Linked DNA regions of Homo sapiens. The protein of the gene in region 1 purifies or fractionates together with the protein of each later gene. This does not show direct contact. Each region holds a gene or a part of one and is shown on either strand. Other genes may lie near its edges.

Region 1 (5,889 bases):
TGCAGTTGCTTTTGTGAAGCCGGCCTTAGAGACATCGAGGCTGGGTTAGCTGGTTGGGTGTGTTGTGTCAGTGACCAGTGTGGAGGGCTAAGTGGGTCCTACTCAACCCAAGGGAAGCCCAACTTTGGGTGCATTTGAGAATAATTAGAATTGTGTCTCAGGTGAGACGGAAGCACAGAAAACAGTCGTTTACAGATACCAGTTTCTAGCGCCTTCTCAGAATGGAGTTCTTGGCACTGTCTTATAGCTTAGAACACGGCTTGCACCAGCCTTCACTTATCCCCTTTTCATCTCCTATCTCGATTGCTTTGCATTCTCTGTTGCTTGTTGTGATAAAATACTTTCCAAAATAAACTTTCAGTTGAATTGGCTTTTGGTTGATGGCAAGCTGAAACGCCGAGCCGCGCCTAGCGCCACTTGGCAGCTAGGGGGAGCTCGGTGCCCGTGTCATGGCTTGGCGCCTCCGCTACAATGGGCTAGGAACGGGCTTCCATCAGCAGCGGCGGCAGTTTACGTTGCTGCAAAATACCTTAAGTGTGAAGTTGTAATATTGATTTTCCAGCAGAGATTCGTGCAGGACAAAATGAGAATATAAGTTTGAGAAATCTATTTTCAAGCTATCGCCATTGATTTACAAGCCCTCACTTGGCAGATGGGGGCATTTTCTTTTTCTTTGATTTTCTTTCTTTCTTTTTTAACAATTAAAATTGTGAGTTTTGAATGGGTGTGTTTTCCCTGATTCGTCCGTGGTCTTGACGTTCTGAAAATTCTGCTGCGTTATTAAGGCGCTGGTGATCGGGCTGGGGAGGTCTGGGGAAGGCGTACTGCTCATTTCTGTCTTGCATGTCACAGACCCAGGGAACAGTCGAGAGTTGCTGCTTTTGGGAGTCGTGTACCTAAAACAGCTTGATGAATGGAAATCCTTTTAGCTCAAATTTTATGACACTTGGATTCTCAATTCCATTTATTAGGTAATGTTCCCACTGAACTAAGGGAAATAGCACCGTTCCCCAAAGATTTAAAATGCCGACTCAAATAACATGTAAAACTTTGTTTGGAAAGAGTATGTGATTGCTAGAGCCAGTCTTGATCACATCTTTCACCCCAAACAGTTGTCCTTTATGGATGGCTTTTAATGAGAGGATTTCTCCCCTAAACATGTAATCTAGTGATGGGGAATATATGTGCTTTTGATCATAGGATTTCTAGATTTATAATGTCTTCTTTCCCAAGTTGAAGAAATCTGCAGACTGCACCCTGAGTCTTATGCTAGAGTTCAATATATGAGCAGAAGAGGTTACCCTGCGACAGGAAAGAGTGCTTTATTCTAACCTGAAAGAGAAATAAATTAGGTCAGACAAAAGCCTAGCGCTGTCGTCAGCTGGAGAAAGAGCCTTCACTCTCCAGTACACAGGGCCAGCAATTTATCTGATGATTTCTCTACTTCATTTAATGTTTGAATCGAGCCAGTTGTAAGCATGTAGTGGCAGCGAGCTCACTGGACCACTCAGAGATGAAGAGGCACGGTGACCTCGAAGTCTTGGGCCGGACGGTGGTCTCTGAGCTGCAGAAAACCGTTAAAAATCAGTTTAGCAATCTCCAATCCTTTGCCTTAGAACTCAGGGGAGTTTCACAAGCTGTAACTAAACACAGATCATAGATAAGACAATGCAGGAAAAAATATATGGGGGAGGGAATGGGAGGGGGTCAGGTTCTTGTCCGTTGGAGACTCTCCTTCATCTCCCATGGCTTAAGGATGGACCTTCTGGCTGCCTGGTTAGGCCTCACCTTTAGCTGAAACTCTCCAAAGACTTTGGCCTCGAGGTTAATGTTGGCTTCACATCTGGGGAGGACAAGGAGAAAGTAAATGGTCTTTGGGGACTGTACCCTGCACCACATGGTTGAGTTATTGATACCGGCTGAGCATCTTTCTCTGAAGACGGTGTTAGCTGTAGATACACTTTTGTATTTATTAATGGGGAAGGGTACAGAAGACACTAGGAATGAATGTCTGTGTCATCCAGCTGCCGTGAGTATGCTTTGTCACTTTGCGGCACTCTTTTGACTCAGGCCATTTGGCCTGAGGTCCTGTGCGGCACTCTTTTGACTCAGGCCATTTGGCCTGAGGTCCTGTGTGCTCTGTCCTGTCCCTACTCCCTGATCCCACTCAGCTTCCTTCCGGTCCCAGGGAGCCAAATGTCAGGGAGATGTGCTCAGGCTCGGTCCCCCTCTTGCTCCATCCCTCCCCAAGAAACGCCGTGTGCTGACTGCCTCCCTTGAGCAAGTATGTTTCCCAGGGCGTGGGTAAAAAGTGCCGAGAGCAGGCTATTTGGAGACGCGTGGAAAGAGAAGGACACATTTCTTGCGTCTTCTGCACAAGCCAGTGAGGAGGGTGAGCAGAGCAGCCTTGTTTTTTGCTGGCAAAAGTGACACTAGATGGAGGCTTGATGAATGGTGCCACATTCACGGGATGTTGGTCCAGCATTTTGACATATGCTAGTCTTTTGTGCAGTTGCTGAAAATCAAGAAATTCATTCTTTTTTCTTTTTCTTGTGGCAGCTGATAATTTGCTTGGGTGTTGAATAGCCAGCCTGAGCTATTTTACTGTAATGAAATCCCAGACCACACAAAATTAAGTCACTTCAAAGTAAAAAAAGAAAAAAAAAATCCTCTCTTTTACATAACTTCTTTTTTATGGCCCCCTTCCACTTATTTTATTGAAATACAAATAAATACATTTGTGAAATGTTCTAATGAGTTTTCTACTAAAACAACACGCAGAAATGACTCAAGAAAAGTTGAGTGCCAATATTATTGTGATTAACATGTGCCTCAGAAATGGATGCACTGCTAAGAATTAAAAAAAAGGGGGGGGGCGGTGTCATGTTTAAATTCCTACCTTGGAAAAGAGATGTCGAAAGCACTCCTGCCCTTGCTATTTGCTGTTGGCCTCAGATAATCCAAACTCCTCCAGCTAAAGCCTTGAGGTCCAGTGTCCTGTGTGGAAGCCCTTCTTTTCTTCCGCACCTTTGAAAAAAGCATAATGTTAAATAAAAACAAATCTCTTCATTTGCCCACAAAGAGTGCTTTTTTATCACATCGTTAGGAGCCCGTTGTGGCTCTGAAGATTGAAGGCATTTGCAGTTTTATAGAACCTGCTAAATGTGTTGAGAAGGATTGCTATTGTGGTAAATCTTTTCCTTTTCTTTTTCTTTAAAGCGCCTATTTTATTTGTCAAGACTTTTATTTGTAACCTTTTAGTAATGGCTGAGACCTGTGAATATACCTGAGTATGTTTTCCTTATTCACTTGTTCTTTTTTCTGCTCTTGTGCTGGGGAGACCCAGGCTCCTGGGCTCAGTTTTTGGGGTTCTGGAGAGGTGTGTGCATTATTCTTTTTTCTGCTCTTGTGCTGGGGAGACCCAGACTCCTGGGCTCAGTTTTTGGGGTTCTGGAGAGGTGTGTGCAGTGGGGGAGAGAAGGCGGTTGGACTCCATAGAGCAACTGAGGATATTTTTCAGGGAGCTGCTTAAGCATCCTAAAATTAGGCTGGAGTCCTGCAAACAATCTGTACACAGGGAGACCCTCCCCAAACATTCGACTTTCCCGCCTGGAGTCTGTAGACCAGAAGGTATGGGAGTGAGCCTCTTCCTGCATCTAAAACCTCTTCACGGATCTGGAGTTTCCACCTCCTGGCCTGCAGGCCAGGCCCAAAGTTTCCGCTGCTGGCGGAGTCAGCGGGACCCTGGTCATTTTCCTGGGAAGCCCACACTGGGAAGCATGTTTTGCACCGGCCGCCTTCCCTTGCTCTCCCTCTCACATGTCAGAAACGGCGATCGAGGTGTGTGCCTCAGCTGAGGAGGGGCAGACAGGACCTCATGGGGTGGTGGCTGTGGTATGTATCTGTCCCTCCAGGGAGGCAGCCTTTGGAGGGTGTCAGGAGGGTGCAGAGCTGACCTGGAGCAGGCTGGACTCCTCTGACTGTCTGCTGAGAGGGTCGAGGGTCAGGACAGAGAGGTGTGATCTGGGTCTTGCTTCCTGCTTCAGACTCCGCCTGGCTGTGCCTTCCCAGGGTCCCCACCCCCAACTTGTGTCCTAATAACCCTTCGAGACCCCCTGTGGACATCCTCCTGACACCAGCCTCCCTCTTATCTCCATTTCCTTCTCTGCCAGGCACTTCATTATTCCCTCCGTTAGGGGAACTTCATAAAATCTCTTGTCGTGCCTTTAAGCGTCATCTAGTCATAGATTATTTTCTCCACCAAGAATTGATTCCTGCTCTCTCCCCCTCCACCCTTCTCCTCCCCCCTCCCTACGGTTGTTATTTTCTCTTGGATCCAATAAATTAAAAATGGATGGCAGCTCAGAAAGTGTTGTGCTCCGTCGAGTGTGCGTGTGGTGGCGTTTCCGTGTCGCCTGGAGTCCCAGCCCCTCCCCAAGTGTTCACGGAGAGGAGATGAAAAGATCTCTTCGTAGATTATGGGTAAGCATGGGCTCGCTGGCAAGAGCTCCCTCTTCGTAGGAAGCAGGTGTAAAGTCTCCAGTCGGATGCAGAGCTCGGGCGGATGGATGCTGAACATTTCTTGTAAACATGCGTACACATCATGATGGCGGTTGTGACGTTGGTGGCACACGATTTTAAGAGCCTGGGACCCATCCCCCCACATCCTTCCCTTTCCCACCCCCGTCATCACTGAAACAATAATTCTGTGTATGTTTCTCCTGGACTGTAGCTTAGCCATTAAAGATAAGAGAGTTGGATTTGAATTAATGCAGGGTAAGGAGGAGCAGCAGCCCACGTACTGTGTATGTAGCAATGCACATGTGTGTGTGCAGGCAGCCACGCACATGCCTGTGCTCTGGGGACAGCAGGCAGCAGACCTCTCGGCTGGAGTTCCCCTAAGGGCAGGTGCATGGGCAGTTGTTAGAGATGGGCCAGGGAGGGCGGGGTCCTTGGCACCCTGTGTGTGGGGGAGTCACTGGCCAGGTAAGGCCCTGCTGAAAGCTTGCAGCTGCTGGGGGCTTGTTGGCTGCTTGGCTGGGCCTGTGTTAACGATGTCTTTCCATTTCTTTCTTCTGACTCAAATTCCTTCCCAGCAAAGCCGAGGCATGGGGAAGTTTGTCTTGGGATCAAGTGCTTCCCCTTTCACTTAACAACGATGTCCATTATTATTTGTGATTGCTTCTAAATGCATTTACCAGCTGGGAGGAGGCCTGGCCTTGTAAATAAAATGTGGTTTTGTTGTAAAAGAAAATCTAACTCGTGTGTTTGTGTGTGTGTGTGTGTAAATACAGATTTGTCCCTGCACTTTAGGATTTAGCATTTCAGAATCCGCCTCAGCCCTCTGATATCTGCCTTTCGAACAAGTTGTCTGCTGCATCCATTCATTTTTCCTCTTAATGAGTCAAACATTTCAGCAATTGCTCTACTTTATTCGGCTCATAATATATTGAGAGCAGCAATATTCTGCAGGGCTGCCCGACACTTGGGGAGCTTTTCATGAAAGCAGAGATCATCTCAGAGGAAAACCTCATCTTGGCTTTATTTTTTTAAGGCCCGAGTTTGCTGGACAAGGCTGCATGAGGGGCTGGCCTGTAGGGTCTGGGAATTTGAAAGACTGTTTTCATTGGTCTTTTTCCTGGTGCTTTTTCGTCTCTGGGTGGCAGGTTGGACCACTCTGCCTGTTAGAACAGAGGCCTGGCTCTCTGAGGCTGTGCAGAGCCGGGAGACTCAGGTGTCCATAGGGCAGAGAAAGAGGGGTGTCACTTTGCCCTTCCCAGGGCTTGGCTTTCTCCTTTTATTTCTTCCATTATCGATACAGTTCTAAGGAGGGACACATGCACACATATGCAGGCACCCTACACGCCTAGCTTGGTATCTGCCTGCCAG
Region 2 (4,060 bases), on another chromosome or scaffold:
TCTTAAGTTTCTCTGTGTTTGCATAATAGCCGTGCATGCAAACCTCGCAATGCTCCAGGGCTCCAGAACAATAAATATACACATTTAAAGCCTTTATTGTCTTACGGTTCATGCCCCCGGTTTTCAACAGCTTAATTTCTGGTTGTATTTAACTAGTTTGCAAATGGATTTTTTCAGTTTCAAACTATTATTGAGGAAGCTCCCCTCCCTTTTTTGGCGGGGGAGGGGATGGGGGTGGGGTAGGAGTCGGTATATTATTCCTGTAGCGCTGGGTTATATAAACACATTATCATTTGAGAGCGCCCTTGGCGTCCATCAGCATTGTAAACACGTACTAGTGTATATACTTCAAAATTAAAGAATGCACACGCAGAACCGGGAGCCTGAATTCATATTCTGAGCAGACTCGCTTCTCGCATTTATTGATTTATCATGCATCGTTTATTGTTCCAGTCCCTAAATGCAGTCGCTGTCCGTTCAATATTGTTTGCGAAATCCTAAGATGTGTGTGCACTGCTCACTTGTCTCTTTTTTTTTTGCTGAGTATTTTTTTGCGAAGCGAACAAATGCATTAATATTTATATGTTTATATAATCGATAACCCACTTTTCCCTTCCATGTAAATAGGCATCAAAAGATAATTTAACAGATTAGTTCTCGAAAACATGGCAGTGAGGAAGCGTAATTTAACTATCAAACAAATCTACATGTCTAATAACAGCAAATCTGCTAAGAAGCATTAGAAAGAGGAGCAGCGCCCCGGAATCTCTGCAGGAAATGTTCTTTATATTAGACATATACAAGCAGGTCCTGTCAGATGCACAGTGGAGCTCGCTACCCCTCCTCTCCTCCAAAAATCTCATCAGACGATATCCCAGACAGGAGCGGTTAGAGAGAGAGGAATCACATCTCCACACAGTTTTAGGGTGCTTTTTATTTTTACAAATCTTCTTGTGTGTTTTTTGCCTTGATCCATCCTCTTCCCGCCGAGATCGTATGGCGCCTTTCTCTCGATTATGAATTTGATCAATCCATCTTTGGAAGAAAACCCACATAGTTTTTTCAGGAGCTGAAAATTGAGTCGTTATAGAAATATTAGGACATATTTTCAATCATTTCGGTGCCCGAAGGGAGGCAAGAGCTCAGTTTTATATTGAGACATTACGCCGGCTGAAGGCAGAGAATGCGTTTCCCTGCCAGGACCTGATGCAATCCATTCAAGCCAACAAGTTTGGAGAGAATGTTGAGTTCAATCAATTCAGAACGTCGAGATGGAGCCCAACTCACTCCAGGTATTTCGCTCTCCTCCGCTCCTCCGATCCCGGCACCCCCCGGCACCCCCCAACCCCCCAGCTCACCCACACCTCTGCACCCACCCACACCCCCCACAAACTTTTCACCAAACTTTTACCCTCTGCATCCCCCAAAATCATTTTTATTGTTTAAAAAAATCCCTGCACTGATCATACATACATAATGTAATTTTACCGCCTCAAATGGGGAGGTGGGTAGAAGTGGCGGTGGGGGGCCCTGAGTTTTTTTTTTTTTTTTTTTAGGGAAGCAGAAAATTTGTGGGTGCTATTATTTTTCCACCCAGCGTTATATCTGTTGGGTCGTCTGTATTAAGAGAGTGGATGTCTGTGTGTAAATGTGTCTGGGAATAGATGTTTGTGCTCTGATGGCTACATTATTTATTTGGTGTTTTTTTCCCCCCCTGCAGTGGGTCGGCTCACCGTGTGGCTTGCACGGACCTTACATTTTCTACAAGGCTTTTCAATTCCACCTTGAAGGCAAACCAAGAATTTTGTCCCTTGGCGACTTTTTCTTTGTAAGATGTACGCCAAAGGATCCGATTTGCATAGCGGAGCTCCAGCTGTTGTGGGAAGAGAGGACCAGCCGGCAACTTTTATCCAGCTCTAAACTTTATTTCCTCCCAGAAGACACTCCCCAGGGCAGAAATAGCGACCATGGCGAGGTGGTAAACCTGTCTGTCCCCCTCTTCTTTCTTTATTATTTTTCCCCCTAGTAATGCTTATTACAGGGCAAGCTTGAAAATACTGTATTCACTTCTGCAGGCAAGCAGGATCGACTCCTTTTTTAAAGGGGTAGCGCCACTAGCTGGGGCTCGAGTATTTTGCCATTGTCAGAGTTTGGCTGTCAGCTTTACAAAGAGGATCCAACTGCTGATTTTAGTCAAGATCAAATAACTTGTTCGAGAAGGGTTTTGTTCAAGGATGTGTGTGTGTGTGTGTGTGTGTGTGTGTATGTGTGTGTGTGTGTTCATTTGCTCTCCTGCTATTGCCTCTTGAACATCACATGCTTTTTATATTTTTTGCCTTTTGAAAATTTACCTTCGTGTCTGGCTCGGTCGTGTCTGGGTGGATTTCTTTCGGTGGGTTTCGATATTGTTCTTTTTTCAAAGTAAGTATTTGATATGTTTAAGAGGGCGGAAATTACGAAATGGAGGCAGAATGAGATCAAAAGCTATTGAGTTGGCAAAGACGTGTTGAATAAAGTGATAAATGACAGGTACTGGAATAATACATTCAAATAACTTGCAGATCTGCCCGGGCGGATTTCAAAGCGGTGGTGTAACAGGCACAAACACGTTAAGCATTAACAACTATCTCTCGCCCACTCCCCCTCCCCCCGGACAAGCCATTTGATGTTCTAGTTTGCAATTACTCCACGCAAAGTGGACGTCCTCCTGCGCGATCTTTGGGGGTGTGTGGGACGGGGGCGGGGGAGGGGAGGGCAGAGGGGTGTGTGCTCGCCCACTGGCCCTGCGGGTCCAGCGTTCTCCGTGCCCAGACGGCGCTCCCGGGGAGGGCGGGGAGGGGACAGAGCCTCCCCGGCACGTTTCTGGGCGGCCGCGGGGGCGCTCGCCGCGCTCCCGGGAGGACGCCGGAGGTGAGCCCGCTGTCACTGGGCGCCGGGGCGGCCGCCTCCCTTCGGCTCTGTCATTTCATGTGTGACCGCAGTTCTGCGGGCTCCCCTCCTCAGCTGACCGACCTCAGCGCCGTGGTACCTACCGAGGGGAACTATTTTGGGGAGTCTGTGCCCACGGCGCAGCGGGGAGGGAGGGCGCACTGCCGCCTGGCGAGGCTTTGTGTTGCCAAAGCGAGAGCAGGGTAATCAAACAGACTTTTGAGGGCAGCTAGTGCTGTGCCAGGCTCTCGAGCTTTCGAGGTAGGTGTAAGGATCTAAGGATCTTTTTGTTAAATGAATGGTTTCCCGTTTAACTCATCCCGGGGCTCGGAGCTGCCAGTCCTTCCAGAATTCCTCGGTTTGATCGAGTTGATAGTACTTTTGGCATTGCTAGTTCACTCCCTCTCCCCAGGATCGAATTACTCGTCAGTGGTCTATGCCGGTTAATTACTGGAGTTCGTCGAAACGTTCGCCCTCGAATCTGCCTTTTCGGAAATAAGCCCCTCCCACCTCCCCGCTCACCTCCCCCCTCCACCCTCCCCGGCCAGCTTTGGTTTTTAAATGTTCATATTTCCCGACGTCCGCCTGCAATTTTAAAAAGGTGTTGTTTGGAAATACTGTGAAAAATCCTGCAACCTACCAACAGGTTGAGCTCTTTCCCCCTCCCAAGGTCTGGCTCGGCCCCCTCCCCCGACCCAACTTTCCTGCGCAGCTGTCTTCCTCCCCCTCCCTCTCCCCCTCCTGATTTCTTATTATTTGCTTTTCAAATTTATTACTTCAACATGGCCTGTGATCTGGAAAAGGGAAGGATTAAATATCCAGAAAAGAACTGGTGCTTAACAGACTTCTGACTAAGTCCAGGAGGAAATTATTCAGTGTTTTATGGGATATTTTGTGGTCACTCTTTTTTGGGGGGCGGGGAATTGAAATTGGGATGTTTTTTAAAGACCCTGAGTTGACCCCACTTGGTACAGTTTTAATTTTTGTTGGTGTAATTAAATGGTGAATTCTGATTTAAGAATAAAGGCTATATTTGCCAAACGTTGCATCTGCTAGAAGTGTTGACAGTGAATAGATATATTTTTAAATACACGATTTCTTTTTAATTGTTCATTATGGGGAATTGAAAGGG
Region 3 (6,515 bases), on another chromosome or scaffold:
ACTTTAGAGTCTTTGCGTGTACCAATTCCCTCGGCCTGGAATGCTCAGCCACCTGATACGTACCTACTCTCTCACTTCCCTCAGGCCTTTGCATGCCTTACCTTATCATGAAACAAAGTCCACCCATTTCTTTTTTTTTTTTTTTTTTCCGAGACACAGTCTGGCTCTGTCACCCAGGCTGGAGTATAGTGGCGCGATCTCGGCTCACTGCAACCACCGCCTCCCGGGCTCAAGCAATTCTTCTGCCTCAGCCTACCGAGTAGCTGGGATTATAGGCGCCCACCACCACACCTGGCTAATTTTTGTATTTTTAGTAGATACGGGGTTTCACCATGTTGGCCAGGCTGTTCTCGAACTCTCGACCTTAGGTAATCTGCTGGCCTCAGCCTCCCAAAGTGATGGGATTACAGGCATGAGCCACCACACCCAGCCCACCCATGGTCACTTTCTAGCCTTTTTTTCTGTTTATTTTTCTTCACATCACTTGTCACCATGTGATATGTTTTTTTGTTGTTGTTCATTGTATCTCTATTTCTAGTGGAATAAAAACTCTATGAGAGCAGAGACTTTAGGAGTTAAGTAAATACCTTAACTGTGTCCACCTTGCTCTAAAGGAATTAAATAAATCATAGTAAGTTTGAACTTTGCATTTTAAGGATTTACTATCTAAGACACACTATGGCAAAATATATGTGTAAAATGAACATTAATCCATAAAAGGAAATGGACATTGAAGTCTTCTCATCACAAGGCAAGTCCAGAAAACAATAATGATTTCTGAACAAATATATCCCAGTGAACAATATTTTCAAAGTAGAAGCGATAAATACAGTCTACTTCTTATACTAATGATTATAGTCTGTGCCCCATTTTTCTGAAAGTGTTCTTAAATAGGCCCTGGACAGTTATTTAGAAGCCAAATTATTATAAAGTTGTTTAATAGTCATGAAATGGAACCCAAGGATGTAGACACTATTTAAATGCCATTAAAAATGGCATGAAGCTTTTAGCCTGATGTGTCTACCTTCACTCTAGAGGACCCTGCAACTGAGAGACAGGCCAGGGCAGCCTTCTCCCTGGACTATGTCGGGTTAGGCCGGGATCTGCCAACTTCAGCTTCTGAGTTTCCCTTTTCTTGCCTTTGGTTCCTGCGGGCCTGCTCTCCTGGGTATAAGCATCGTCTATGGATAGGGTACGGCTCATATACATGTCTGCTGATGATCTTCAAATGAAGATGCCACCCAGAATCACATAAAATGTATTTATCACTTTGTAGTAGTTCTTTATCATCATGTATCTTTTTGGACAAAGGATTCAAAGTAAAAGGGGTGAAGTTTTAAAAATATTTACGTTTTACTATTAAGAGATTGATCTCCAGTCTCAGAAAAGTGGACAGTCTCACTGTCCTAGGGTTACCATCCACCTCTTTTGTGATAATCCACCAAAGAGGTTAAAATACAATTGATTAGGTTTCCTCTAATCACATTTCAGCCCCCATATCACCTCAATTGACGTCGGAGTGTTCTCACAGTTTTGCAGTTTCCTGATTTACGAGCACAGATGGTTAATTACATCCACCATGGGTTTGACAAGCAAGGTTACTAGAAGTAATCTTAAATGTCTTCATTCAAAGCTCTTGGGAATCCCTACAGCAACGAAAATAAGGAGGGGGAAGAGATTAATTAGGTTTCTAGAAGAAAGGTGGAGTTTGAGGTGGAACTTAAAAAAAGAGCATAATTTCACAGGAAAAAAAAAACGCTTCAGGGGCTGCAGAAACAGCTAAAGCACATTTGGAGGGCCTGATGATCCACGGAGCAGCCCCTGGGATGGAAGCGGTTGGTGCAACGTGAAGTAAGGTAAACCGAATCCATGCCGTGAAGACTTTTAAACGCCAAACTGAGGCGTCGGAACTTTGCTCCGCGGGCATCGAGGAGCCATCGAAGGTTCTCAGCAGGTGAGTGGCCTAACTGGATTGGTCACTGCAGTGATCCACCTTACAATTTCTCCGGCGCTCTCTGCCGACCTCAGCCGGCGATCAGGCCGGCTTCGCAGTAGGTGGCGGCTGAGCGCCCCGGCAACCGAAGCGCCAGGCCAGCCCAGGCCACGCCGCGCCGTGCGGGATGCTGACCGTACCCAGGCGGGAGCCGCCGCGCCGCCGCCTGGCGCTGCACCTGGGCCCGGCCCGGCCGCCAATTGGACGGCTCGGGGCGACCCCGCTGTATCGCGAGACGAGATTGGCAGCGGCGGGGCCTCAAGTGCCCCCGCGCTGGCTTTGTATGCGGAGCCGCCTGCCGGTCCTTTAACAATGGGCGGCGCGAGCGTCCAGGCGCTGGGCTCTAGCTGAGGCCGGCGCTTAGCGGCCCACTGTCCGCAGCATGAGCGGGGCCGGCGTCCGCCGCACGACGGCGGGGCTGGGGCTGTGAGGGCCGCGGTTCCGGGTAAGGGAGCCAGCGTGGGGCCGGGCGGCCCGGCAGGCCTGGGGTAGGCGTGGGGCAGCGGACCCTCCCGGGGTGAGGCGCAGAGCCTGGCTGGCCCGGCCTTTTGTTCCCCTTTCTGAGGCCGCGCGGAACGTGCGTTTCTCGGGGCTCCCGGGGAGGAGCAGGCTCCCGACGTCCATGCGGAGACCCGCGGCCAGGCAGACGCTCACCCCCGGGCTTTGCCATGGGAGCGTTTCCCCTCAGCGGGGCTATGAGCGTGTCACCTCTCCCCGCTCCTCAGGGAGGGCGGGAGAACTCCAGCCCCGGACGCAGGGAGCCCCAGCCGGGCCTCCCCCAGCTCTTCCCGAGCTCGCACCTGGCTCCGCGCTTTGGCAACTCAGGGCCCGAGTGGATCCCCTTTTGCCCGACACATAGTCGAGCAGTGAGTCTCAGAGTCCTTCGGCTCTTCCTGCGGGGGCAGACCCGGCTTCGCGTGTGGCGTTGGGGGAAACGACTCGGGTCGGGCTGGGTTGAGGAAGAGTCAAGTGAAGATGAGCAGCCACACCGGGTGGCCTGAGGTCACACCCCCCGGGGAGGGGGCGCAGAGGGTCGCGGGGGAGCCGGCAGTGACCGCGCCTGGGGTGTGTCTTACAGACTCGAGTTGCCGCGTCGGGCTGGGCGCGCCGCCGGGTCCCATGGAGCTGGAGGGGCAGTGGTGGCGAGGACAGCTGGCCGCCGATATTCACCAAGCGCTTCGCTACAAGGTAACTCCGAGGCCCGGCCTGCCTTCTCCTTCTGTGTGTCGCGCCAGTTGTTCTGAATCTCGGCTCTCTAGAAGGTCTAGTCAGGTTCTTTACTCACTATCTTCCGGGCCAGAAAAGGCGAGTTTGCTCATTTGCTCAAGGTTAATTAACTTCTTGGCTCCTTCTCTGGGATGTATCAAAAGAACCTGCAACCTGAATGAGTAGGGAGATGGTAGTTGGGCCAGGGAAGGTGGAAAGGGGCGTTCTGGCTTCCAGGTGGGTCATGAATTTGATCTTGTATTTTAAAAGATATATACACTGAATTTTTGTTGGGCAGAACAGCCCTCTTTGTTCGAGAGTTGCCGTTGCATGCAGCCAGTTTAAGTCGCTTTTGTACATAAATTCCTCAGCCTTTCCGCTAACTTGCCGTGAGACGTGGACAAGTGAAATTTCTGTTTCTTGATTTCCTCATCTGTAAAATGAGGAATAATGAGTGTGCCTTATGATTCTGGCGATTGTGAAACTTAAGTTAGTACCGTACATGTGCTTAGAAACTGCTCTTGGTATATAGTAAGCACTAAGTGATAACTTCTTATCACTTACCCCTCAGGATTTGGGCTGTTCAAAAGCCCTAAAGTGGAGGGAGTTGGCTGCCCCTTCCTGCTGATATCAAAGGCAGAAAGTAGACTTAATAGATATTGGAAAAAAATACTTTTCCAACACAAAGCAAAGTCTGTGTATTGTTGCTATTAAGTAACGGTTTTACTCTGCATGTGGCAAGGCAGATTAATGAGACATTTCTGCCTCTTCGATAACCAAAAGAGAGACCAGATCCAAAATGATCTCTAGCTTAACTCAGTTTCACCTTGGATAAAGAAAGCCATTTGTTAAATGTAGAAAATTGAGAAAGAAGCAAAACAGCTGACTTTCAATAAAAAGGATTCTGACTCTTGGGGTTGAGATCCTGGAATGATAATGAACTTTTATCTTGAGTTTCTGACCAGGTCAAGTAGATTGGAAAACCTAATTCTGACTTAAATTGTTACCCTTTTCTAGGCCTGAGATTTCTAAATGCTACTTAACTAATTCTGACATTCAGTCTCTTAGATTCACTAAAATACAGTTCAGCCCCCTAGGAGATGGTTTATACCACATAAAAATTCTAACTAATGGGATCTCTGGAGTGTTAGTTAGGAAAGAGTTGCAGTTTCTTGGAAAATTGTCCAGATACACTTTTGATCTTTTTTTTTTTTGGCAGATGTCATCTTTCAATGTGAAATGTTTTCTTTTTTAAAAAAATTAATATAGTTGCACATATTTTGAAAAGTGTTTTAAGTGTCAGCCTTTTTATCCCTCTGGTATGTAGTGAAATTAATTAGTTGATATTAAGAGTACTTTTTTTTTGAGTTGGAGTTTCACCTGACCTCAGGTGATCCACCTGCCTCGGCCTCCTAAAGTGCTGGGATTACAGGCATGAGCCACTGCGCCCAGCCAAGAGTATATTTTTTAATTGGCATGAAACTTAAAAGGTTTTTCTTGGTGATTTCCATACTTTTCAATCATTTTATGTGTAGATCATTTTAATTCGTGAGTGATTATCTGCATTTTGTCAATTGAGTTTGGACATGGGTTCTTTGTTTTTTTGTTTTTTCTCCTAGATTTAGATTTGTTGAAGGCTTTTGTGGATTAGTTTCTGGAGCATCCAAGGCATAAGACCCAACCTTATACTCACTCAAGTTGCTTATGAACTATCAGAGGACAAGGTAGCACAGGGTGTGAAGGAATGCCACTGAAAGTTTTATTGGGCCACCTATGGCCTACTGCCCTGGGTTGTCTTTATGTTTAAGCATTATGCAAACCATGGTTCTTACTGGCAACACTTTATACAAGAATTTACATTAATCTGTAAAACTTAAACTTGTGGAACTGGAGAGACCACTGTTTGTAATACACTGAAGGAAACTTAAAATGGACTTTTCTCCTAGAAAAGACGTGGTAATTCCAGGCTATTAATTGGTGATTCAGTCGGATAGTCATCTGTTTTTCTTCAACATGTTGATCATTTATGACATACATGATATCATGCCAGGTGTTAGAGCAATAACAGTGAACGAGACATGATCCTTGCCTTCATAGTCTAACCTTATCTATAATTTAGAGCATCCACATTTAGGTCTTCCTTTGGGCAGTTGCCATTGAGATACTGCAGAAGGTATTCTATGTTTAGGCCCTAGGTTTGTGGAGAAATATTTGGTGTGACTAGCATTGTGTTTACTAGGGAAGAGTGAAAATGACAATGAATGGAAATCATGCCAACTATCCACTCCCTCAAAAAACCCCTACAAAGCAGCTGTCACCTTACACCCTTTTGTCTCCTTTCTTCTCATTATTTTGCTGTGTATAGTTAGTGTCATAGGCTGTTTGGGAAAGTGTTTTTAGGAGCCTTAATGACAAATGGGAACAATTCTAGCTTTGTGAGAAACATTAAGAAAGTGAAGTCCATCAGTGTTTTCCAGGTGTTTCCAGGGAGTCTTTAAGACCATGTTCAGGCCACTTTTTGGGAAAACCTGCTCTGGTTTTGCCTTTTTTCCCCAACTCCCTAATCCCTGAGCTAAGTTAGATTTTCTTCCTAGGTGTTGCCATAATAACCTGTGGTGACTATATTGTGTGATAAGCTCTGTATTTGATTCACCTGCTAGAGATAGGCTTGAGACTGTTTTTCCAGCTTTTATGCCTGGGTTAGTATAGTGTCTGCTGCATGGGAGATGCTCAATAAATGTCACATGGTGGCAGCAAAGGTAAAGTTGCAACTCACTTACACCATTGTAAAGATCCAAAGAAAGAGTTAAGGAGAAAAGAAAAATCCTAGGAACTACATGAGAAATCGGCATCTTCCCTTTATGTGGAAAAAAAAAATTTTTTTGGCCAGGCATGGTGGCTCACACCTGTAATCTCAACACTTTGGGAGGCTGAAAGCAGGTGGATCACTTGAGTCCATGAGCTGGAGACCAGCCTGGGCAACATAGCGAGACCCTGTTGTACAGAAACTAACTGGGCGTGGCAGTGAGCGCTTGTAGTCCCAGCTACTCCAGAGGTTGAGGTGGTTGGATTGCTTGAGCCTGGGAGGTGGAGGGTGCAGTGAGCCAAGATGGCACCACTGTACTCCAGCCTGGGCTACAGGAAACCCTGTCTCAAAAAACAACAATTGATGTATTCTTTGGCTACACTACTAAATTACATTGACTATTTTATCCATTTATCTTAGGTAATATTAAGTTAGGTGAATATATAACTTCCCTTTTTTGTTTATCGTAAAATGTATCAACATAAAACTTTTTTTCCCCAACTTTTAAGT
Region 4 (5,607 bases), on another chromosome or scaffold:
TCTGGAAATGGTGCTCCTCTCTTCCCATTCTTTAGTCCAGGACAGTGAGGCTTCTGCCTCTATCCCTCCCCTGGTGTCACTGTCATCCAAGTCATCAGTGACCTCCATATTGCTAAATCCAATCAACACTTGCAGGCCTTTCTTGCCTGACCACTCAGCTGCGCTGGACTTGCCTAACCACTTCCCTCACCCTTTTCCTCTGAAACGCCACAGTCTCTAAAACAGCACACTCTCTGTTTTTCTCCTTCCTCTCTGATTGCTCTTTCTCATTTCTCTCCCTCAAGCCCTTAACCACAGGTCCCTTCCTCATACTGCTCCTCTCACCTGTGAGCACAGACCAGGCCAACACCACCACTGCTGAGATCCACAGCCAGCTCACCCCACGGCTAAATCTCACCATCCTATCATCCCAGGTACCTCCTTGTCCTGTGCCAGGGAGAGGCACACCTGGGAGCTTCCAAAAACCAAGGAGCTTCTCTACAGGGCAGAGCATGGTCCCCAAGGACTACCCTGCCTCTGCCCTCCTATCTGTGGTTGGAAGCACCCTGAGGACAAGAGCAGCCAAGTCAGAGCCTAGCAAGATGAACAAGGCTCACCCCAAAAAAGCCAGAGTTATCTGTGAGGTCCTTGAACTCACCTCTTGGCACAACTTTTTTCTTAATACTAATCACTTTGTAACTTACTACAGAATCAACATATTTATTACAGTTGTGTGTGTCTGTGTGTTTACCGTCTCCCCTGCTAGAAGTTAAGCTCCACCAGAACAAGAACAGGGATCTTTGTTTTATTCAGTGTGGGATCCCCGGTACGTAGAACAATACCAGGCCCATACTAGATGCTCAATAAATATTTGTTAAATGAAACAGGGTGCCAGTTCCACATGCTGTAGTCCTAACTACTCAAGGGACTGAGACAAAAACCTTCTGGTTTTTGCACCTTTTGTTTCTTTTTCACCTTGATGGCCCTTGAACTCCTGAGCTCAGTTCAAGATCAGCCTGGGCAAAGGCTAGAAGAAGCAAGATCCCATATCTTGAAAAAATATATAAATAAATGAAAGAAAGAAAGGAAGGCATGATACTTCATTAGAAGTGCCTGCATGACCTACTGAAATCCCTGAGGATCAAATGGTCCACATGCAGTGGCTTCCCCCAGACCCAGGTGCTGTGCCCTTTGTTTTATTTTTGGAAAAGAATAAGGGTTGTATCATCTAAACCACATTTCCATTCCTGAGCCTCCAGGGAAGTCCTCCCAGATGATATGGAGCCTGCCACAGAGCCTCCACTCTCGACTTCCATTACCTTCAGACTTCATCTCTGAGTCCCCAATCCTTAAGAGCCAGGCATAAGAGCTGCAGCCGCCGCTGCAGCCGTTGAGTCATCAGGGAACCTGGGGCCCTCCTATGGTATGGCCTTAATCTGTCCTGAACCTAGGATACATACAACTGTCCCAGCCATGGAAGCTCACCCCAACACAAAGAGGGGATGTCTGCTGAGGCTTCCTGAGATACAAGCATGGGTGCATGAAGCCAAGGGGACAGGCCCCCTCTATGAGGCCTGTGGAGAGAAAGAATGGAAACCCTGGGGAGGAAGGCTGTCTCCTCCCCACCAGGCCTGCCTTCAGGGTTGAGGGTGGAATCCCACTTCCTAAGACTACAGCTGAGTCTTGGAGGCTCCCCATGTCAGGAGAAACAGGTTCTTGCCATGACTTTTCTTTCAATATCCCGTCTCAGGCCTAGGGGTGCAATGCAAGCACAGAGTCCTAAGGCCCCTTTGTAAAACTTTTATTTAGAAATCTTCCCGATACATCCTCACATATATATACACATCATCACCACATGGGTTTTTTTTGCTAAAGAGTCACACACCCACAGTGTTGGCCTCTGGGCTGTACAAAGGTCAAGGTACCTGGAGCGGTTACTCCTCTTCTGCAGAAAAATGCAGAGACCAACGCAATTCATCACATACAGTACAACGTTGACGGAAAGTGCTGGGCCCGCCCACAGAAACAATGCACTATGTACACGGGCAGGGGGCAAGTCTTCAGCAGAGGGTCACGTACCATCGAAATCACAAGTACGGCCAGACCCACCCCCAAAAGGCCGAAATAGTTGTCGGCTGACTACAGATGCTGTGCCCTTTGTTTTATTTTGGAAAAGAATAAAGGTTGTACCATCTTGTCATCTGCCATAACAAATAAAAGAATATGAATTTGTCTTAAAAGATGTGATTCCCTTCAGTGGTTATGGTCATCTTTGTTCTCAAAATGTTGTTTTGTTTTGTTTTACCTTTATGTTCTTTCCCCTTTGTACAGATGCTATTCTTGGAATGTTGCCAGTTTTTCATGGGTAACAAGGAAGGAGAGGAAGGATAAGGTCATGGGGTACAGAGGGTGAAAATAAAAATTACAGATCTTCTTTAGTTCTTACAAAGACCTAAAGACTTGCCCTTTCCTACCAGGCTTGTTTTGGGTAGTTGCATTACATTTTACACAGTCTGCCAGTGTTCCCATATCTCTTTTCCATTCTTATTACTGTCCCTGGCCTTGGAACAAGATAGAAATTAAGACAATCTGGGCTGGGTGCAATGGCTGACACCTGTGATCCCAGTGCTTCTGGAGGCAAAGGCAGGAGAATTGCCTGAAGCCAGGACTTCAAGACCAGCCTGGGCAATATAGCAAGACTCCATCTCTACCAAAAAAAAAAAAAAGTAAAAATTAGCCAGGTGTGGTGGCTCACACCTGTGGTCCTCCCTACTCGGGAGGCTGAGGTGAGAGGATTGCTTGAGCCCAGAGTTCAAGGCTGCAGACAGCAATGATGGCACCACTGTACTCCAGCCTGAGTGACAGAACAAGACACCGTCTCTCACACACACACACACACACACACAAATAGATAATCTGGAGAAATGAGGACAATCTCAATAACTCAGGCCAAAGCGGTTTACAATCTAAATTACCCAAATGCTGGGCAGTCAGGCACACCGGCCTACTGCCTAGGTCGTGGACTCAGGCTGCGAAACCCCACTGCAGGATTGAGATTGAGGGAAAAGAAAAAGTTCTTTACGTTCTCAAAACTGTCTACTTTCATGATCCCATTCAGTCCACACCATAGCCCTAGGAGATAGGCCAAGCCAGAGTCACATGGCAAGTCTGAAAGAAGAGGGAGCCAGAAGTTTGAGTTCTTAATAAAATATGTGATCCATCTCATAAAACCCATCCACCCATCCATACTGTGGCTACTTCTCATTCCTAACTCAAGCGAATCCACGGTGAAGCAAACAGCCTTAGATCCTACAGCAATGACTCTATCTTTAGACAGATGGGGCTCCTCACAGGATCTTCCAAACGTTGGAAAGGAACCAACCCTAATTTTCACCAAAACATGATCTGGGGAGCCTGAAATTGAATGGAGAGCCTGAGTGCTACAAAGGTGAACAATGTTGCCCCAAGCTCGAGAATTGGACCTTACTTAAAAGGAAGGGGAAAGGAGCAGACATATTCTCTGTCTGTACATGGCTGAATTAGGGCCCCATCATGGTGAGGACAAGCCACTAGGCTGAAGCCCAAACTATAAGGGGGGGCTTTCCAGACAGCCACAGTGATGAGTTCTTGCATGGCAGGACAGGGCCACAGGCTATCTCTCCTCTGACCTCGAAGGCAGAGCCTAGAGGGAGAGGGCTAGGGTGACTTAAGGGTACAATGACAGACATACAGGACTTCTGTGCAATTTGTCCCATGGGCTTAGATGCAGGTCACAGACAGGCCTCACCTTAAGAAAACCACATCCCACCATCTGGATTGACACAGGAAATCAATGAAGGGGCAGTGGTTCATTCTACAAAAGGATTCTTCACTTTACAAAAGGACTTGCAGTGGTTATTTCTTTAAAAGATGAAGGATAAGGATGTGATTTACAAAAATTTCATGTACAACTTTCAGAGGGGAGCACTTCTATTGCATTAAACCAACCTCCCAGACGCACCCTTGATGACCAAAAGCTGCACAACTGAGGGGTGTTTAAGGTTCTGCTAAGTGAATGTGCATATGTTTGGGTCTTAGCCAGGGCCTGGTCTCTGATTGGATTTCCCATACCCTAGAAGTGAGGCTGGATCCTGGTCCTATTGAGCGCTAAAGATTCCACCAATAACTGAAGTCAAGCAAAAATTCCAAATGCAAAGCATTCATAGGACAGGTTTTGTGCTCAATTCGGAACATAGACCAGACCATCAGCAAACAGACATCTTACAGCAAAGAAATCCCTCTAAGCATCCAGGAGAATGCACAGATGGGGCTGCGCATCTACTCAGCACCAGCGTACGCCCATCAGCACACTGGCATTCACTCGCCAGCATGAACAGTGATGTCGAGGAGTTGAAGCCCACATGCCCAAAATATCTCTTGCTCCATATCACTCTACTATCATTGTCCCTTTCTCTGCCTTCACACAAAGCCCGACAGGGCTTTCTCAGGGCTGCAGACATTGTCTCCACAGCCACAGGCTTAGGAAGGCAAGTCTCATTGGGGAGAAAGCAGAACTTTGATCCCCAGGGCAAGAAGTAAGGGCGACTGGGTTTCCTGACCCTCCGGCCCAGCTCATCTAGAGCAGACTGTCCACTGATCATCTTCTTCAACCAGGCCCTGAAGAAGGCACCTCGAGGCTTGTGACTCTGCAGCATCTGGCAAGCTGGATGGATCAACATAGGCCTGGGTGAAGATGGGGCTCACGAAATGGGCAGCTATTGGGTACCTATAAATATGGACAGAAGTGGCCACACAGGCCACCCCAGCCAGCTTGGGAGGGGCTAAAGGCAAGGCAGAGACTGCTGGATGCCTCAGATGAGAGCTGACAACCCCAGGTCTTAGGAAAGACAGGGATCCCAAACTCCAGGCCAAAAGCAGTGACAACTCCAGCCTCTTACTTGGGAAGGATTTGGGACTGAGGGAAGAGGGAAGACCGTGCCGTCTTCACAAAAAGTACCTACCACTTTGCTCCATTTTTCTGATCTCCTACTGGTACAGGAAACAGAAAAGCCAGCCCCAGGGTCAGTAAAGGCTTCCCAAAGTTCAGACATCCAGGAAAGTTCAAGTCCACCGCCTTGCTTCAGAGCCGCCCAATTCTCACCCCACCTGCCCTGAAGCCCACCATCCCAGCAGCCTAAGAACGCCCTCCTGGCTGATCCTGGTGGCCCAGACCCATCACCGAGGGCCGGCTCCATCGGCGGCAGGCAGCATGGCAGGATGGAGGCTGCGGGCCGTGTGCTTGGGCGCGGGCTCCTCCGTGTAGCTGTCCGGGCTGGCTGCCCCATCCAGGGAGCTGCCGCAGCTGGAGTTGGGGGAAAGCACGTCTTGCAGGAGGTCATCTGGGGGCGCGCCGCCCCCTCCCCCACCTCCACCCCCACCAGCCCCCACCACAGGGTCCTTGCCAGTCTTGGCCCGCTGGGTGCCCTCCTCCTCCTGGTCATTGAGCAGCTTGGCCAAGAAGTTGATATACTTCATGGCCAGGCGGAGGATCTCATTCTTGCTGAGCTTCTTGTCCGGGGGATGTGTGGGGATCAGCTTGCGGAGCTCGGCAAAGGCCCCGTTCACATTCTGCTGCCGCCATCGCTCCCG
Region 5 (5,889 bases), on another chromosome or scaffold:
GACCCTGAACACCATGTGTGGAAAGTGGGTTCTTAGGAAACTGGCTTGGTCTCAGACATACCAGGAAGGGTTGGCAAAGGTGCTACAAATCAGTGATGTTGAGAAGGGACCAGTTTAATTAATTCGTGAATTAAATATTTTTAAGTCCCAGTGCTTTGAAAAGATTTCATGATCTTTACAAACCATGCCCATTGGTACAGATGACCTAAAGTGTGAAGAGCCTATTCTGAGTGTTTTGGAGCAGTACAGCTGCGCTTTTAAAGAAATTCCTATTCGTGTTTCACACTCTCCTCAGTTGGTCCAAGTTGGGGTGAAGGTACGTGGAAGGTTTGGAGGACTGTGGTAAGTGAGTGTTGGGTGTGAATGTAAGCCCAGTGCAGGTGGGGCTGGCAGGCTGGAGGCTCGCATGGCTACAGTGGGGTCACCAGAGGGAGGAGAGTTAAGTGCTAGGCTATTTCAGACCAGGAGTGAAGAGGGTGGTTCTGAGAGCTGCTGCATGCCAAGCCAGTGGGAATGAGAAGACATATAGGCTTCTTTCCAGAAGCCTAGGCTGGAAAGCCTATTCTATGGCTAGCTCTAGAAATGAGCTCCTTGCCCTTTGGGCCCTTATCTGTAAAATGAGTATGTTTTTCGAGTAGTCTCTGTATCCGACTTTCTGCTCTGGGGTGGCTTGGTATATGAGGTGGTTCACTTCCTTCCAAGTCTGTGAGATGGGGGGTGTGCCCCCCAGCATTCCCCCGCTGATGTAGTGACTACATCCAGAGAACTCACCCTGTGTGAGCCCATGCTTAACAAAGATGCGTTTTGGATCCCTACAAGATGTAAATAAACCCTTAGATTTGGGACTAGGTTGACATAACCCACCAGTGCCAAACTTCCAACAGGTGTGCCACTTGCATAGGGGCTGGGGTCACCGTGGAACCATGATTAGACAAAAGGCCTAGGCCCAAGGCTCTACTCCAGCCTCCCGGGGCTCCACAGCAGCACAGGGAAAAGGCTTCCTTTCGGAGGTCATCTCATGGTGTGGGCAAGTGCTGGGAGAGTATCTGGAGCAGGGAGGGCTTCGTTCTGCTGTCAGGGTATGGGTGATGGGACCATTTGGTGTCCTTTGGGCCACATGGGTCAAGAGTAGGCTCTAACAGGACAGTGGAGGAGGCACACCACCACTGGCCTGGGTCATTTATTTTTCACCTTTCAGTCTTTCTCAAGCTACAGCAGATACATTTCTATGTATCGCACCTGCTCCTATAGGTACAAATCCCCTTGCCCTCCTCCCCGCGCAGCCACAGTCTCCACTGTCTGGCTTCTGGCCACACAGGAGGAGGAAAAGGACGGGCTGTGACACTGGCTCTCTGTGCCCTGGCCTCAGCTGCTCTGTGGGGCTGCAGAAAAGGACAGAGGCAGAGGTGTAAGTTGGAGTGACACTCAGTGAGGAAGCTGTATGTGAATGTAGGAGAACCTCTTTTAAGCAAACCTGCCAGTTATAAACACATAGCAAGTCAGAGCATTTGCTTGCATTACCTGAAGACGTGTGGGCATTGAAAATGTGGTTGGGTTTTACCAAGCAAAGTGAATCCACCCCCACATTTTAGAAGCATATTTATTATTGGATTCAAGGTTCATGTGTCTGGAACCAGGAATGATCTTCTTTTCTTGGGTCAGGAGCCCCTTGCAAGGGCCCTGAGGAAAAACTGCCTTTGGAAGATTTTTCCAAAGCTGGTCACTTTCCCAAGCCCATCTTTAAAGGACAGACAGCTTGCTGCTCAGGCCCTGCCACAGGCCTTAGATCCAGGCCCCCTTGCCCTTTGCCCGGCCCTCTCTGAGGGCACCTATGTGGTCAACACTTATGCTGAGAGGCTTGAGGCCAGTCATTGCACCTCCCTCAAGAGCAGGGAAAGCCTATACCAGGGACCTGCTCTGCCCATGTGTGGGTAGGATGCCCATGTGGCTACTGTGTTAGAGACCTCAAAACAGGCCAGCTCGAACCTTGCCCGGAGCAATAGGCTGAATGACCACCCCACAGCCAACTGCCACGGGACACATTTTTTTTTTTCTTCCAAAAAGGTTCCTTCTTTTTGGTAGTTGGCTTCTTTTAAGCTTGTTTGAGGAAGAAAAAATTAGGTCAAAGTTTATTCCATGAACACTGTCAGGCACCTGATTGATGTAGGCTTGCAGGCAGTTACTGGCCTAGACCAGTAACCAGGGTTTTTTTGTTTTGTTTTGTGTTTGTGTTTGTGTTTTTTTAGAGACAAGGTCTCACTCTGTTGCCCAGGCTGGAGTGCAGTGGTGTGATCTTGGCTCACTGCAGCCTCAAACTCCTGGGCTCAAGCCATCCTCCCACCTCAGCCTTCTGAGTAGCTGGGACTACAGGTATGCACTACAATGCCCGGCTAAGTTTGTTTTTGTTTCTGTAGCAATGGGTCTCACTGTGTTGCCTGGACTTTGGTTTGGTTTTCTCTGCTCTGCTCTGAGACCTGAAAGTAGGTGGAGGTGGTGAGTGGGGAGATAGTGAGCTGATCTTAGGCTGTACTTTGGGGGGATTCTGGGATGGGTAAGGCATCATTCCTTAGGCAAACTCAGGCTCAAACTCAGTGTAGTCAGTCTTGTCATATCCAAAATTGATATGAGGCTGCATTGAGCTGTGGCTTCTTCTATGAGCTCTACTTGGAGTCTGTAGCTTAGACAGATGCCGAGCCTTTTGCCATTTTGATGAAATATCCAGAATAGACACATCCATAGAGACAGAAAGAGGATTAGTGCTTGCCAGGGGCTGACGGAAGAGGGGCCCAGGGAGCGACTGCTAATGGGTATGGAGATACTTTCTGGGGTGATGAATAGGTTCTGGAATTAGATCGTGGTGGCAGCTGCACAATCTTATGAATATACTAAAAGCCACTGAATTACATAACCTTTAAAACAGTGTATTTTATGATATGTGAATTACATCTCAAATTAAATAAAAAGGCTGAGGCCTTTGGCTGTTGCAGACTTGGGGCCATGTGTCCCTGTCCCTGATCTCCACAGTTGTCCAGGTGCCTGGGGATGCCCCAAGCCAGGGGGTCAGGCATCAGGTGTCAGGTCCAGCAGAAGGAGCCTCACTGAGGCAGTGGACTCATGTTGGGGCTCCCGGCAGGTCCAGAGCGTGCCTGGGGGAGCAGGAGGTGAGGGTATGAGCAAGGCTCCAGCAGAGGAAGGAAGTGCTGCTGATGCACGGCCAGCCTGTCCGAGGAGCTTTGCAGAGATGCATAGGTGCAGGAGCACCCACCGGCCTCCACACGCCCCAGAGCGAGCTGTGGGCCTTGCTGGGAAGCGTCAGTTATTGGTGTTGAGCACCAGCCCTGGTTGCAGTGAAGCCTGTTAGGAGGGAATTTGGCACCAAGCTTGGTACCAGGTACTGGGCCCCCAGACTGGAACCAGGCTCTACCCCGGGAGTGCCCAGCTGAGCCGAGGAGACAGATAGAGACCTGAAGCAGAGCTGGCGAGAGGAGCGCTGTCACTGAGGTGTCCCGGGCAGAGCCGGCCCCAGCCCTGGCTGTGAAGGGGGGCCCACTGAGGAGCACTCTGAAGGCCACAGGGTGTCCAACAGATGAAGACAGAGGAGGGACTGGCAGGCCCCAGGCTTCCCTCTGAACACATCCCAAACCTCCCCACTACTCTGCAGTCAGCACCCAAAGCCCCAGTCATCGCCATCTCTCACCCAGACAGCAGCAACAGCGTCCAGGGGACCCCTCCCTCACCCCTAACCCCCATCCTAAATCACAGTCCAGGCTTCACGTAGCAGCCACAGGGGGCCTTTAAAAACAGAGTCAGATCACATCTCTCACCTGATGAGACCCCGCATCAGCTTCCCATTGCTCTTGCAGTGAAGTCGAAGCCACTCATCACAGCCGAGTGCCTGGGTGGCCCCCGCCAGCCGCCCCTCATCACCTGCACCAGCCTCTTGCTGTCTCCCTGACAGCAGTCCCCTCCCTGTCCTAGGGGGTCTTACAGCCAGCAACTTCTTTCCACCCCAGGACTCTTGCACTGCTTCCCTCCGCTCGGAAGTCTCTTCCCCAGCCCTGCACATAGCCGCCACCTTCTCGTTCCTCACTCAGGGCTCAATTCAGATGTCTCTGCCTCAGGGAGCCTCCTCTGACCATTCCCAGTAGGACCCTCCTCATCCCTTGGCTCCAGCTGCCTTGCCAGCCCTGGCAACTCTTCGGGCTCAAACGGTTGGCACTGCTTTACAATGCACTCACCATGCTTAACCCTAAGAAAGGCCGGCTGTTCGTTTCCTCCTCTGCACAATGGGAGTGGTGAGCCCTCCTCCCAGATTTGGAGTGAGGACCAGCAGCAGTGCCAGGGAGGGGCCCAGGGAGGTGCCAGTGCGGCCTGGCCAGGGGGAGTCAGCCATGACTGAACCCTTGTCCCTTGCTGGCCTGGCTCCCCTGGGGCCAGTGGTTGCTCAGTTGTGGGCCCCACGTGGACTTGGGCACGGAGGGGTCTGGAGGTCTGAACCCTGGGACTGGGGACTCAGGTGTACAGGCCGCCTACTTACTGCCCTGCCTGACCCAGGATTCTTAGGAGGGGAAAGTGCTATCCCTGGGGCCAGGCAGGGAGCCACAGCCACTCACTGCATTCTCAGAATTCTATCCTACCACCCCAAAGATTGACCTGAAAGAGACTCCCCTTCCTCAGTCATGTAGAAGTCCTTTACATGAGATGTTAGAAGCTTAAGCTGTTTTGTTTCAAAAAAAAAAAAAAGATTGGCTGGGTGCGGTGGCTCATGCCTGTAATCCCAGCGCTTTGGGAGGCCAAGGTGGGTGGATCATTTGAGGTTAGGAGTTCAAGACCAGCCTGGCCAACACGGTAAAACCGGGTCTCTACTAAAAATACAAAAATTAGCCGGGCATGGTGGCACACGCCTGTAATCCCAGCTACTCTACTCAGGAGGCTGAGGCAGGAGAATCGCTTGAACCCGGGAGGTGGAGGTTGCAGTGAACCAAGATTGCGCCACTGCACTCCAGCCTGGGCAACAGAACCAGACTCCTCAAAAAAAAAAAAAAAAATGCAAAAAACCCTCATGGCCATCAGCCTGGGAAGCCGTGGCCACCCTGTGCGTGCCCCTCATTCTTGCCACGATGCCACAGGTGTGGGCAGCCTCCTTGCTTGCAGCCTCCCCTGTGGCTCTGGCTTGCTCCCGGGCTGCCTTCTTTCCCAGTGTGAATGATGTTCTGTACACATCACTCTTTCGTTTCCACCTTGACTATTTTCCTGAAGCATAATACCCAAACAGAATTATGGGGTCAAGAGGCAGGAAGAGTCGAGGCGTTTTGCTTCCCTGGTGCCCCAGTGCGCTGTAGGTTCTGAGCTGTGAGTGTCCCATGCTTACAGTGGCTCAGCACAGCTGATATGGAGTTCTGCCTTTGTTGCTCTGCATTGAATAGGTTTGTGGTGGGCAGTGCGACTGTGAGCTATTTTGAATTACCTTTCTTTCCTTGGAAGGCTGCGTAGTATTGGCTATCACATTTGGAAAATCTGCAGCCTCTTTTCTGCTGCTTCCAAGGTGGGACTTTGAGGGTGGCTCCCTCAAAGCCTTGATGCCTTTCAAAACCAGGAGAGCACCATGAAGGGGGCCGATCCTGCAGACCCCTGGTTAGAGCCAGGCTTCCTGCCCCACCCTGTCCTGGGGTCAGGGAGGGATGGCCGGGAATTTAGGGCGGTTTGCCCCTCCTCTGGAAAGTCGGGGTGAGTACTAGCTCAGCAGGGTAGGAAAGACCTTCCCAAGGCCCAGGGCTGGCAAAGAGCCCTGGATTGGTTGCTGAGACCTGGGATCCTTCCCCCCAGGCTCTACCAGGTTCCACCAAGCCAGTTTCCACGGCAGCACACGGGAATATTCATACCAGCACT

Evidence for each region.
Region 2: the proteins of BCL11B (region 1) and ARID5B purify together in Homo sapiens (affinity purification with mass spectrometry; one large-scale study listed by BioGRID and IntAct). This does not show direct contact.
Region 3: the proteins of BCL11B (region 1) and CCNJ purify together in Homo sapiens (affinity purification with mass spectrometry; one large-scale study listed by BioGRID and IntAct). This does not show direct contact.
Region 4: the proteins of BCL11B (region 1) and TAL1 purify together in Homo sapiens (co-immunoprecipitation; one study listed by IntAct). This does not show direct contact.
Region 5: the proteins of BCL11B (region 1) and TCF7 purify together in Homo sapiens (affinity purification with mass spectrometry; one large-scale study listed by BioGRID and IntAct). This does not show direct contact.

What each region holds. Positions count from the first base shown.
Region 1 is NC_000014.9:99,261,276-99,267,164, reverse strand, and holds part of BCL11B (B-cell lymphoma/leukemia 11B), read left to right. Parts: intron 1-5,889. UniProt on the Homo sapiens protein: Key regulator of both differentiation and survival of T-lymphocytes during thymocyte development in mammals.
Region 2 is NC_000010.11:61,900,439-61,904,498, forward strand, and holds the start of ARID5B (AT-rich interactive domain-containing protein 5B), read left to right. Parts: upstream 1-1,260; 5' UTR 1,261-1,271; coding exon 1,272-1,292; intron 1,293-1,720; coding exon 1,721-1,975; intron 1,976-4,060. UniProt on the Homo sapiens protein: Transcription coactivator that binds to the 5'-AATA[CT]-3' core sequence and plays a key role in adipogenesis and liver development.
Region 3 is NC_000010.11:96,041,282-96,047,796, forward strand, and holds the start of CCNJ (cyclin-J), read left to right. Parts: upstream 1-2,301; 5' UTR 2,302-2,438; exon of another isoform or gene 2,439-2,968; coding exon of another isoform or gene 2,969-3,112; coding exon 3,113-3,181; intron 3,182-6,515.
Region 4 is NC_000001.11:47,214,527-47,220,133, forward strand, and holds the end of TAL1 (T-cell acute lymphocytic leukemia protein 1), read right to left. Parts: coding exon 5,194-5,607; 3' UTR 1,765-5,193; downstream 1-1,764. UniProt on the Homo sapiens protein: Implicated in the genesis of hemopoietic malignancies. It may play an important role in hemopoietic differentiation. Serves as a positive regulator of erythroid differentiation.
Region 5 is NC_000005.10:134,116,555-134,122,443, forward strand, and holds part of TCF7 (transcription factor 7), read left to right. Parts: intron 1-5,889. UniProt on the Homo sapiens protein: Transcriptional activator involved in T-cell lymphocyte differentiation. Necessary for the survival of CD4(+) CD8(+) immature thymocytes. Isoforms lacking the N-terminal CTNNB1 binding domain cannot fulfill this role.